3 linked regions of the Homo sapiens genome follow. The protein of the gene in region 1 purifies or fractionates together with the protein of each later gene. This does not show direct contact. Each region holds a gene or a part of one and is shown on either strand. Other genes may lie near its edges.

Region 1 (3,651 bases):
AGGCTGAGGCAGGAGAATGGCATGAACCCGGGAGGCGGAGCTGGCAGTGAGCCAAGATTGCACCACTACACTCCAGCCTGGGCGAAAGAGCAAGACTCCGTCTCAAAGAAAAAACAAAGAAACAAACAAAAATCAGTACCTAGGTTATCTGCTGCCAAAAACAATGAGGAAAACAAAAAGTAAACCAAGGGGGGTGGCCTAGATGGATTTCACTGCTAAAACTCTATTGCTGTTTCCAAGTAACTCAGCCTTTGACTTTAGCACTAATTTACCTCTCACAGAGAAAAAACTGGTATGTTCAATAAATCATGTGACACAGTGTCGCTTGAGTCTCTTCACATTTGCTATGACACAGCTTCTTCACCTCAGGCCAGCCTAATAGCCTTCCAAATTTATAAGCTTACCAAGGTCTCCACTGAGCAGAGCTTCTGCCAGGGGTGGATTGCGTTCCTTCAGCAAGGACAGCTCATGCGGGTTGGCCAGCAACATATCTCGGAGCAAGGCTGGATTGTCCAAGCCCTGAGGAGATGAAGTTATTTCTCCAGGAGATGAGTGGGACTGCTGTGTTCCTGGTGGCTGGCGCTGCCGGGGACTTGATGTGCCAGGCACAGCTATACTACTGAAATCTATTCGGGGTAAGTCTGTTGGGGAAAATCAATTCAGTTTACTCAAATTACTCTACAAAAACAAGCACTTGAAGGAAACAGCAGAACACTTGCTCATACATGGTATATGACAGCAGCAAAGGTAACTGTAGACTTTAACCTTGTTCTTTCTCATGATGACTCTGAATATAAAGACTGCCGGCTGAGAGTGAATCGATAGAAGAAGAAAAATAGGGGGAAGGTGATGGTAGTAACTCCAAATTTTTAGCTTATAAAATATCTCACAATAGACATCAGGTTTTTAATTTATGTTTTTAAATCATTAAAGTGGCCAGGCGTGGTGGCTCACACCTGTAATCCCAGCACTTTGGGAGGTCAAGGTGGCTGGATCACCTGAGGTCAGAAGTTCAAGACCAGCCTGGTCAACATAGTGAAACTCTGTCTCTACTAAATATACAAAAATTAGCTGGGCGTGGTCGCAGTCACCTGTAATCCCAGCTACGCAGGAGGCTGAGGCAGAAGAATCACCTGAACCCGGGAGGTGGAGGTTGCAGTGAGCCGAGATGGCGCCATTGCACTCCAGCCCAGGCAACAAGAGCGAAACTTCATCTCAAAAGAAAAAAAAAAAAAAAAATTAAAGCTAGTTTCAATAAATATAATTGCATAAGTCTGGATGTTGTTCTTGAGAAAAATCCTACTCTGGTCTGACATATGGTTCAAACAGCCTTGACGCTTGGATTAAAGAATTTTTTTTTTTTTTTTTTGACACGGAGTCTTGCCTTGTTGCCCAGATTGGAGTGCAATGGCACGATCTTGCCTCACTGCAACCTCTGCCTCCTGGGTTCAAGTGATTCTCCTGCCTCAGCCTCCCGAGTAGCTGGGATTACAGGCGTGTGCCACTACGCCCAGCTAATTTTTTGTATTTTTAGTAGAGATGGGATTTCACCATGTTGGCCAGGCTGGTCTCGAAATCCTGACCTCAGGTGATCCACCCACCTCAGCCTCCCAAAGTGCTGGGATTATAAGTGTGAGCCACTGTGCCCGGCCGGATCAAAGGATATTATATATGTCAAGTGAGCAGCATAAATATTAGATGCTAAATTCTGCAAGTCAGTGCTAAACGTATTGGCTCAGGGAAGTTCTTAATAGTTCTCTGAATTTATACTTTAATCTGTGCATCTCTGCTAACTCTTCTCATGCCCTTGGGGAGCTAAACAGTGTCATCATTTTATAGAAAAGAAAGAAGAAAAGGGACTTGCATAGGTTCTCAGTGCTGAATACACCAAAAGCTACCACAGTTTAGAAGCTACAACTCCCAGGTTCTATATGCCAGGTGGAACTGACCTTACTAAAATGAAAGGAAGATAAAAGGGAATTTTAATCCTTACACAACGGACTCACATATTGTATGACCCCATTTATATGAAATGTTCCAAATAGGTAAATACATAGAGACAGAAAGTAGACTTGTAGTTGTCTAGGCTGCGGAGACTAGGGGGAAATGGGAAATGACTATAAATGGGTATAGGATTTCTTTTTAAGGTAATGAAAATACGCTAAAATGGATTGTGGTGATGGTTACACAACTCATGAATATAGTAAAAAAAAATCATTTAAATGCATGAATTCTATCTCAATAAAACTGTTATTTAAAAAAGAAAAATGAAAAAGAGAAAAGTAAACAAGGAGAGCCAGAATGAGGGGCTAGGCCTGAGTCAATCGACATTCCTTCAACTCCAAAAAATATAGTTGATGGTCAAACTTGTCTGAACAACTGAATACTTTTCTTAAGGATAACTGTGCTTAATGTTATAAATGACAGTACACTAAGCAATTCCACAGTGATCAGAATTATAGCACAATCCTTGCACTATTAAGGATTTTAAATAAACTAAAAAATCAAAAAACAAACAAACTTGTCTCAAGTCTGGGACTATCCTGAAGCCTTTTTGGACCTCAGATAGAAAAAGAGAATGCTTAAACTCATGATGTAACATTTCTACCCTTTAGCAGGGGTTCAACTAGCCACTTTCTTCAACTCCCAACCAAGGAAATGGTGAAGTGAAGAGGATGATCTCTGTGAGGTAGTTAATCTATACCAGCCAGAAAAACATATATGGGTGGGCCCTCTTTGCAGGTCAAGAAATTTTATCTCCACTCCTGTTATACATTATCTTGAGAGTCCATTCACTTCAGAATAATTCTCAAAAACATGTTTACTTAATAGACCAGATCACTCCTGCCCCAACCTGTTACAGGCTCTCTTGTCCATAAACAACAATGCAGAGGAAAAAAAAAAAGAAGTAAATTCCGGAATTAATAATCTCATCAAATTAACCAAAGGAAGATGTGGTTTTTACTGATTGTCATAGTTGTTTAAATACGTTTAACTTCTTCAGAAAGAAGTTTTAACTTCTTTCTAAAGTTTAACTGTGGCCCCAAGGGACTAATGTCTTCCAGATCTGGTGGAGCCGGTCCTTGATGGTCTCAGTAAGTTCCAGTTTCAGGCTGAATGGAAACACTGTGGTTAAAACTGCAGTCAGTCTGTCATCACCCAGACTCTGCCAGCATCTGTCACCATAAACTTTAAAACTGGTGACCTACAGGCTAAACACTATTTAAGAAAATCTATCTGAATATGGCAGCGAATGGAAAAAAACCACACATTTCACCAAGCTGTTTCACATTAAGACCTTATAATCATTTTGTGGATCATGAGCCACTTCAAGTATCTGAACAAAGCTATGACCCTCTCTCTATCCAGTGCACACACACATTCACATCCACACAATTCTGCATATTATTTCAGTGACATAGAACCTACTAAATCCCAATGCACAGAGTTCAGACTATAAACATCTATTATAAAAGCAGCATCAAAGATAGATAAACGTTTCTTTGTATGTGATTAACACAGCTGGTAGGAAAGAACCACAACTTGGTGGTCAAGCTGCTTAATGTTTATCAAGTTCAGCATAATGGAAAAAGCATCAAATTTTAATTCCTGTGCCCTCACTTAATAGCTATGTAACTTTAAAGACACCAT
Region 2 (3,751 bases), on another chromosome or scaffold:
TTGCCAAGTAATTGGTTCTCTCACTGTGCATTGATAATGTATACTTTGTTAGCTTTACAGTTTATATTCTGCAATAAGTTACAAAGTTGTACCCTAAGGTTATCTTTGCTGCTATGATACATACAGTCCGGTTCATCAGCCTGGTTAAGGACAGGGTATTGTTCTCACAGAATGTCCAGCCTTATCCAATGTTCCAACGGACTTATTCAAAATAATTTCAATTTACAAAATCAATTCAGTCTCCGGTTTATGGTGACAGCAGTTTCTTTCTCTGAGAAACACTAAAAAGTTGCCAGCAGTTCCATTTGAGTAACTGAATAGATTTGCTACCTATTTCCTGGTCCATTCTGTATTGGGATGGAAATAATGTCGTCTTTCCTTTTTTTTTTCTTTTTTGAGACAGAGTCCCGCTCTGTCATCCAGGCTGGAGTGCAGTGGTAGGATCACCGCTCATGCAGCCCCCGAGCTCCCGGGCTCAAGCGATCCTCCCACCATTCTCCCCAGTAACTGGGACTACAGGCATGCGCCCCCACACCCGGCTGATTTTTAATTTTTTTTGTAGAGATAAGGTCTCGCTATATTGCCCAGGCCGATCTTAAACTCCTTGGGCTTGAGATCTTCCTGCTTTGGCCTCCCAAAGTACTAGGAGTAAAGGGGTCATGGCTAATTCTTGTTTTTTTAAATTACTAATGTGTCCCTTACAGATAAATAAAAAAGTAAAATTACTCACAATTCCACCAATCACTGAGAGACTTATTGGTGTTTATCTATCCAGTCTTTTCTGCCTTTCTCCATAAATCACAGTTTTTAAAAACGGGACCATACGGTACATAGTGTTTTGTCTCCTCACCCCCTTGAATAACCTTCACATTGTTCCATGGTATTTACAGTATTTACTAATAATGACTGTAAATGTAAGAGGTATATAACTGACTTTATTCAGGGCATGGCAAGCAGGAGTGAATTATTTTCTTCTTATCAACACAGCACGCCCCTACCGCCACTCATCCCTATAGTCGTTCTCTAAATACCTAAGTGACACCTGACCAGCAAGGTTTCAGGGTCCTTGTGCTGAAAGGAGCAGGCTCGCCTGGGGTCACGGCCCTCCGCTTCGCAGCAAGACCCCACCGCCCACCACGGCCCTCCAGTTAGCCACAGCTCGCTTCCCCCAGGACCGGGCCAGAGGTCCCGAGAGGGCACTCTGCGGACCTAGGGGCCCCAGCCTACAAGACGCTGTGTCCTGCAGTCATCCCCTTTACACAGCAGAGCCCCAATTCTGGGAAGCCGGGGTCACCCCGAGCCTCCCTTCCCCGTGACAGCTCGGCCGGTGCATCACCTTCCCTCGCGGACCCTTTCAGCATCACCACGCGTGGGAGGAAACCCAGGACGGGCGCCTGAGCCTCGGTGGCGGCCCACCCCGGTGCCGCGCGGCGCCGCGGCCGGACCGGCGCCGCGCCGTCCCCGAATGATGACGCGCTTCCTGCCCTCCCAGCGCTCTCGGGCAGTGCGCTCGCGCTCGCCCTCGGCTCTTGTTCCGCGCCCGGAGCCAGCGGCGGCGGCAGCGGCTGAGGCGGCTGCGGGAGCGGAGTGGTCGCCCAGCGCGCGGGGGGACGCGGGCTGCACTCCCGGGCAGGCGCTCTGCAATGAGACAGTAAATGCATCCCCCGGTAAGGCGCACGGCTCACTCGGGTTTTCCTCTTCCTCCAGCTGCATGCACGTTGCATGAATTTCTCGTGTCTTTTCCCTCCCCTCTCCAGAAGGAAAATGTGGGGTTTTTTTTCCTCCCTTTTGCTTCTCGTGAGTGATGCCAATGCAGGAAAAACCCGTAAAGCTCCCAGATTTGATGGTCTAGGAGGGCTTCTTGCAGGAAAATAAAAATAAAATGAAATTAATGCACCTGTCTATTGCACATGTATGTTTCACTGCACCGGACCCGGGCGCAGCGGTTTGCAAACAGCCTCGCAGTCGGCGCCAGAGAGCGGATTCCTGGCCGTGGGCAGCCGGTCCCCTCCGGGGCTCTCGCTGGGTTTCCGGTAACTGGGCTTTGAAAAGCGGCCCCGCCTGCATAGAGTGTCCCCTCGACCCCAGCCGGGCCCCCGCGCCAGAAGAGTTGGCGCTGGAGGAGCAGCTTCATTCCAGCACTGGCCGCCGGGACTCCAGCGCCACTTTGCAAACAAGTCTCCCGCCGAGGCTCTGGGCTAAGACAGCCCGCCAGTGCGGAGTTCCTTCTCCGGTGCCGGACACTCAGACCTGCCGATCCCACGACTGCCCTTTACTTGGCAATCTCGCCACGGGCGAACTGCTGGCCGCTGAGCGACGGGGGCAGTGCCGGGCCGAGAGCGGGGCCAGGCTTTGCATCCAGTGCGGCTGGCCTCACACAGACTCAGCGGCTCCCTCTCCTTCCTCGGTCCCACGAGCTGAAATTTTGCGCCCATTGGAAGCTGGAGGGACCTGGAGACGAGTATTTCGGGATCCCTGAGGGGACCGAGGAACGACTTTCGAGGGCGCCATATTTTCAGTGGGTCTTGACTGCGGAGGGGAGGGGGCGAGCAGTTTCTGGGTCCCGGGGAGAGCCCCGCGCCCCAGTCGGAGAGGCCTGATCGGTTGTCGCCGGGAAAGTTTGCGCGCCGAGGCAGGCGCGGAGGCGGCCGCACAAGGCGCGCACGACTGCTGTCCCCGCAAGGGCGCGCGGACTACAGCGCGTCGCCACGCCAGCCGGCGGGGCTTGGGAACGAGAGCCGCCGTCACGGACAGCGTGCTGGGCTTGCCGCCTTCCTCTGTCCCGCCTGGACCCGGCCTTGGGGCTCCGAGGCTCAGGGAACACGCCCCTCTTCCCCGCAGCTACCGCTGCCCGGGTGCTCAGCCGGAGCCGTGCGCTGGGCGGCGTCCCGGGGCTGGGCGCCGAGTGTAGAGCGTTCTCCCGGTGCCCGGGCTCGCCTGGGTGCTCCGAGGGGCGCAGTAGCTCACTTCCTGGGGGAGAGGAGGCGCCTTGGTTCGTGGATCAGGACCAGGGCCTGGCCTGTGGTCGCCCCGAGGCCGCCGAACAGCCTGAGCTTCCAGTCGCCTCTTTGGCTTTAGCGGCGACAGCAGTAGCGCCCGCGGCTGCGTGTTCTGCTCTCGCAGCTCGTAGAGGCGAGGAAAGGAGGGCGTTTCCAGAAGTTGGGGCTTCAGGTGACGCGTGGGGAAACTTGGATTCTTGCTGTCCTTGAAGAGCTGGGACAACTTAGGCCAGAATTCCTGTGTCTCATAGTGAAAACTTCTGGTTCTTTCCAGAAGATGAGAGAGGAATGAACTGAAGTGTTGGCGTTGTCAAAGACATAATTAAAGACGGTTGGGTAGGGATGATGTCTTGGAGAAGTGGTCCCCAAAATACACGTAAATTGCCCTGGTGCTGTAAGTACCACTTACTTTTCCATTAATAATACCTGGGTGTGTTAAGCTGTGGCATTGTAAGGTTGCACGCTGACCTCCCTTCTCCAGAGCTTGGAGGCAGCGACCTCTCTGGAGTGAGGGGGAAGCGGGAGTGGGGAATCTTTACTTTTGAAGTAGACTGTGACCTCTGCTTTGTGATGGGACAGGGCACGGGCGTGTTTGCCAACCTACAGGCAGCCAATTGCAGGAACGTGTTCTCCTTGGAGTGTTACCGAAATGATGTCATAGTATTGAGGTTTTGTCGGCACTTCCGGTCTTCTTCACTGAAGAGGCTAGAAGGGACCACAGAAACCTCTGGGGTTGGGGGTTAGGTGTGCAG
Region 3 (3,651 bases), on another chromosome or scaffold:
ACATAACTATAATTATCTTGAAAGCACATACTATTATGAGTATTGGGACATCCGGATGTTCTGTCGTTGTGGGAGTGTAAGGATACTTGCAGGCATCTTCAGGCTGTTTTCTTAATGTCAAACATGTTATGACCATGGGTTGTGACTGGCAAGGAGTGTTTCTTGTTAGTCTCAAGATGGAGCTGATTGGTCTTTCTCTGGCTCCCCTAGGCACTTGCTTCCCTAACACTTATATAGGCAAAAGGCAAATAAATGTAACAGGATTACATTTTCCATAGAAGGCTGATGTATGAGGTACAATAATTTAATTTTTTTTTTTCTTTGAGACAATGTCTAGCTCTGTGGCCCAGGCTGGAGCAGTGGTGCGATCATGGCTTACTGCAGCCTTGACCTCCCCAGCTCAAGCACCTCAGCCTTCCCAGTAGCTGAGAGTACAGTTGCCCACCAGCACACCTGGCTAATTTTTTGTATTTTACAGAGGTGGGGTCTCGATATGTTGCTCAGGCTGGTCTCTTGCTCCTGGCCTCAAACAGTCCTCCTTCCTTGGCCTCCAAAAGTGCTGGGATTATAGACATGAGCAAATGCATGTGGATAACAACTTAATTTGTAGTGGTTTGCTTTTTTCCCCCAGAGCTTGTTTTCTTTTCTTTCTAGCTGGTTTATATTTCCTTTTCAATTTAAAAAAGTGAATTTAATATTCTAGCTGAAGACAACATGATAGCCATGGAGTCTTTGTGTGAGAAAGTTAAGAGGGAAATTAGTGTACTATAGAGATCAGTAGTAGAGAGGGGCCTGGCGGGATGGCTCACACCTGTAACCCCAGCACGTTGGGAGGCCGAGGCAGGTGGATGGCTTGATCTCAGGAGTTGAAGACCAGCCTGGCAACATAGTGAGACCCCATCTCAATTGTGAAAAATCATATTAAATTTAAAAAGACAGTGACAAGGGAAAGGGTCTTTCCTGTTTCCCTTCAGTCATTTACAACATTTTACAAAACACTATAGGTAAGAAAGAAGGCAAATCTGTAATCAGGGAAAGGAGGGTTCCAGCTAGCTAGGTGAAAGTTGTGTGTCATGTGACTCAACCCCATGATCACATTGCTTCAAGATGATGTAGAGATTCATCAGCTTAAATTTTTGAATTACTTGGTTGTTTTTGCTTGTTTGTTTGTTTTGAGACAGGGTCTCACTCTGTCGGCTAGGCTGGAGTGCAGCGGCGTGATCTCAGCTCACTGCAGCCTCTGCCTTCTGGGTTCAAGTAATTCTCTGGCCTCAGCCTTTCCAGTAGCTGGGATTACAGGTGCGTGCCACCACACTCGGCTAATTTTTCTATTTTTAGTAAAGACAGCGTTTTATCACGTTCGCCAGGCTGGTCTTGAACTTCTGTCCTCAAGTGGTCCATCCACCTTGGCCTCCCAAAGTGGTGGGATTACAGGTGGGAGTCACTGCACCGGGCCTGACTTACTTGTTCACACAGCCTATATAGGTAGAAAATTTCTAGTTATGTAATCAGCGGTTAATTGGTGGATTGTGCCTGATTAAGCATAAATTTCATTTCCCTATACATTAGTAATTTTCACGAGTTGTATTTAAATATGATTTCAGGATCCTTAGGTAGGACCTTAGGACACCTCACACAGTTTGGCCTCATTGCTTCTTATTTAAATTTTTTCACATTCTCCAGGGCAACTGGTTTCCCCTTACATTTTCCAAATATATGGGATGCAGCGTCTCAAATCCTCCACCCTCATACCACAGCCTAACTCTTCAAGGGCTTGCAGTGAAATCTGTTTCTGAACATTTCACATGAGAGGAAAGCAGAGAATAACCACTAGACATTTGCCTGAAAAATCCTTTCTGCCTCTCCTCCTTTTATCTTTCCTAGACACAGACACCTTATCAGGATGTCTTTGGGATGAGGTTCCTTTCTGGAAACTTTACAGGGTGATGTGTCTTCAGTACACCCTCCTATCTTTTCCTGGTTTTGGGTTTTAGAATTGCCTGGGGCTGGCTCAAGATCCCCACAACTGCCATGTCTCCTGGAGGGTCTCATGGGTATTAGTGCCTTAGGGGAGTGGGACCTCCCGAGGGAGCAGCTGAATGCCTTATGGTGGAGGAGATGCCTGGTATACTCTTCATCTACATAACCAATTCTTGGGGTGCTCAGCTTCTGTCTCCCAACTCCACTTTCCATTAATTGGAGACACATGGCTGTTCTGCCAATCGGATGTTGCTAATGAGGAAAAACAGAGATGATTCCTGTCCTCTGGATTGTCTCAACTGTGAAGAGAGAAATATCCCAAAAGACAAGGAAAGGCCACTCCAACAAGGATGTATTTAGCTGTCCCACAGGGAGGTGGTCACCAGAATGCAGCTGAGTAAGTCCCATATGTGAGTTAACCACATGGAGGAACTGGGAGGAGGTGGAGAACCAGAAACTGTTCAGAGTTTGAGTAAAGTTTTCTTCTGTTATAACAACGTTAAATCCATAAAGAAAATGCATGCTAAGGTAACATATAAATAAAAGAATTCACTGTAACAGGTAACTCTAGAATTAATTAAATTATTGTATATGGAGATGATGAGTAGTAGATTGATTATTCTCCTGTAGATAACCATTTGTCCCTGCTTTTTCTGTTAAGTGTTCACCACTTGTATCATTGGCTGGCAATACCTGGTTTGTCATAGTTTCATATTACCTTAAATAGATGTCCAGAGCAGGTGCAGTGGCTCACACACTTTGGGAGGCTGAGGCTGGCAGATCACCTAAGGTCAGGAGTTTGAGACCAGCCTGACCAATATAGTGAAACCCCATCTGTACTGAAAATACAGCATTAGCTGAGCATGGCAGCGCATGGCTATAATCCTAGCTACCTGGGAGGCTGAGGCAGGAGAATCGCTTGAACCTGGGAGGTGGAGGTTGCAGTGAGCCGAGATCCCGCCTTTGCCCTCCAGCCTGGGCAAGGAGAGTGAAACCTCATTTCAAAAAATAAAAAAAAAACTAAAAAACTAGATGCCCTGGTCTCACAATTTGCTGTTTTCCATTGGTCTGTCCTTCCATCTCTCTGTTAATACCATTTTCTCTTAATTAGTGTAGAGTTCAAAGCTGCAGTGTATAGTAGGGATATTGCTTCTCTATCTTAGTCATCTTGGGCTGCTACATCAAATTACCATAGACTGGGTAACTTAAAGAATAAACATTTGTTTCTGACAGTTCTTGAGGTTGTGAAGTCCATGTTCAGGGAGTTGGCAGATCTAGTGTCTGGTAATGGCCCGCTTCCTGGTTTGCAGATGGTCATCTTGTGGTTTCTTCACATGACAGAAAAGAGAGGAAGCTGGCTGTCCTGTGTCTTCCTATAAGAGCACTAATCTCATTCGGAAAGCATCTACCTTTATGCTCTCATCTAATCCTAATTAATTCCCAGAGATGTCAACTTCTAATACTATAGTGGGGGGTAGGTTATTAATGTGTGATTTTTTTAGAGTGATGCAAATATTCATGCCGTAACACCCTCCAACCATATTCTATAGAGCATCTTGGCTGTTCTTAGTCATTGTCTTCTATTTCAGTTTTTAGAAGTACTTTTTTCTTAATTTTAGTGAAAAAAACAAACTGCCTTATAAATTTCATGGAATAAAATATAACTGTAGT

Evidence for each region.
Region 2: the proteins of DDI2 (region 1) and TLN2 fractionate together in Homo sapiens (co-fractionation; one large-scale study listed by BioGRID). This does not show direct contact.
Region 3: the proteins of DDI2 (region 1) and ZNF763 purify together in Homo sapiens (co-immunoprecipitation; one large-scale study listed by IntAct). This does not show direct contact.

Annotation. Positions count from the first base shown.
Region 1 is NC_000001.11:15,627,315-15,630,965, reverse strand, and holds part of DDI2 (protein DDI1 homolog 2), read right to left. Parts: intron 642-3,651; coding exon 405-641; intron 1-404. UniProt on the Homo sapiens protein: Aspartic protease that mediates the cleavage of NFE2L1/NRF1 at 'Leu-104', thereby promoting release of NFE2L1/NRF1 from the endoplasmic reticulum membrane.
Region 2 is NC_000015.10:62,389,019-62,392,769, forward strand, and holds the start of TLN2 (talin-2), read left to right. Parts: upstream 1-1,531; 5' UTR 1,532-1,667; intron 1,668-3,751. UniProt on the Homo sapiens protein: As a major component of focal adhesion plaques that links integrin to the actin cytoskeleton, may play an important role in cell adhesion. Recruits PIP5K1C to focal adhesion plaques and strongly activates its kinase activity.
Region 3 is NC_000019.10:11,967,949-11,971,599, forward strand, and holds part of ZNF763 (zinc finger protein 763), read left to right. Parts: intron 1-3,651.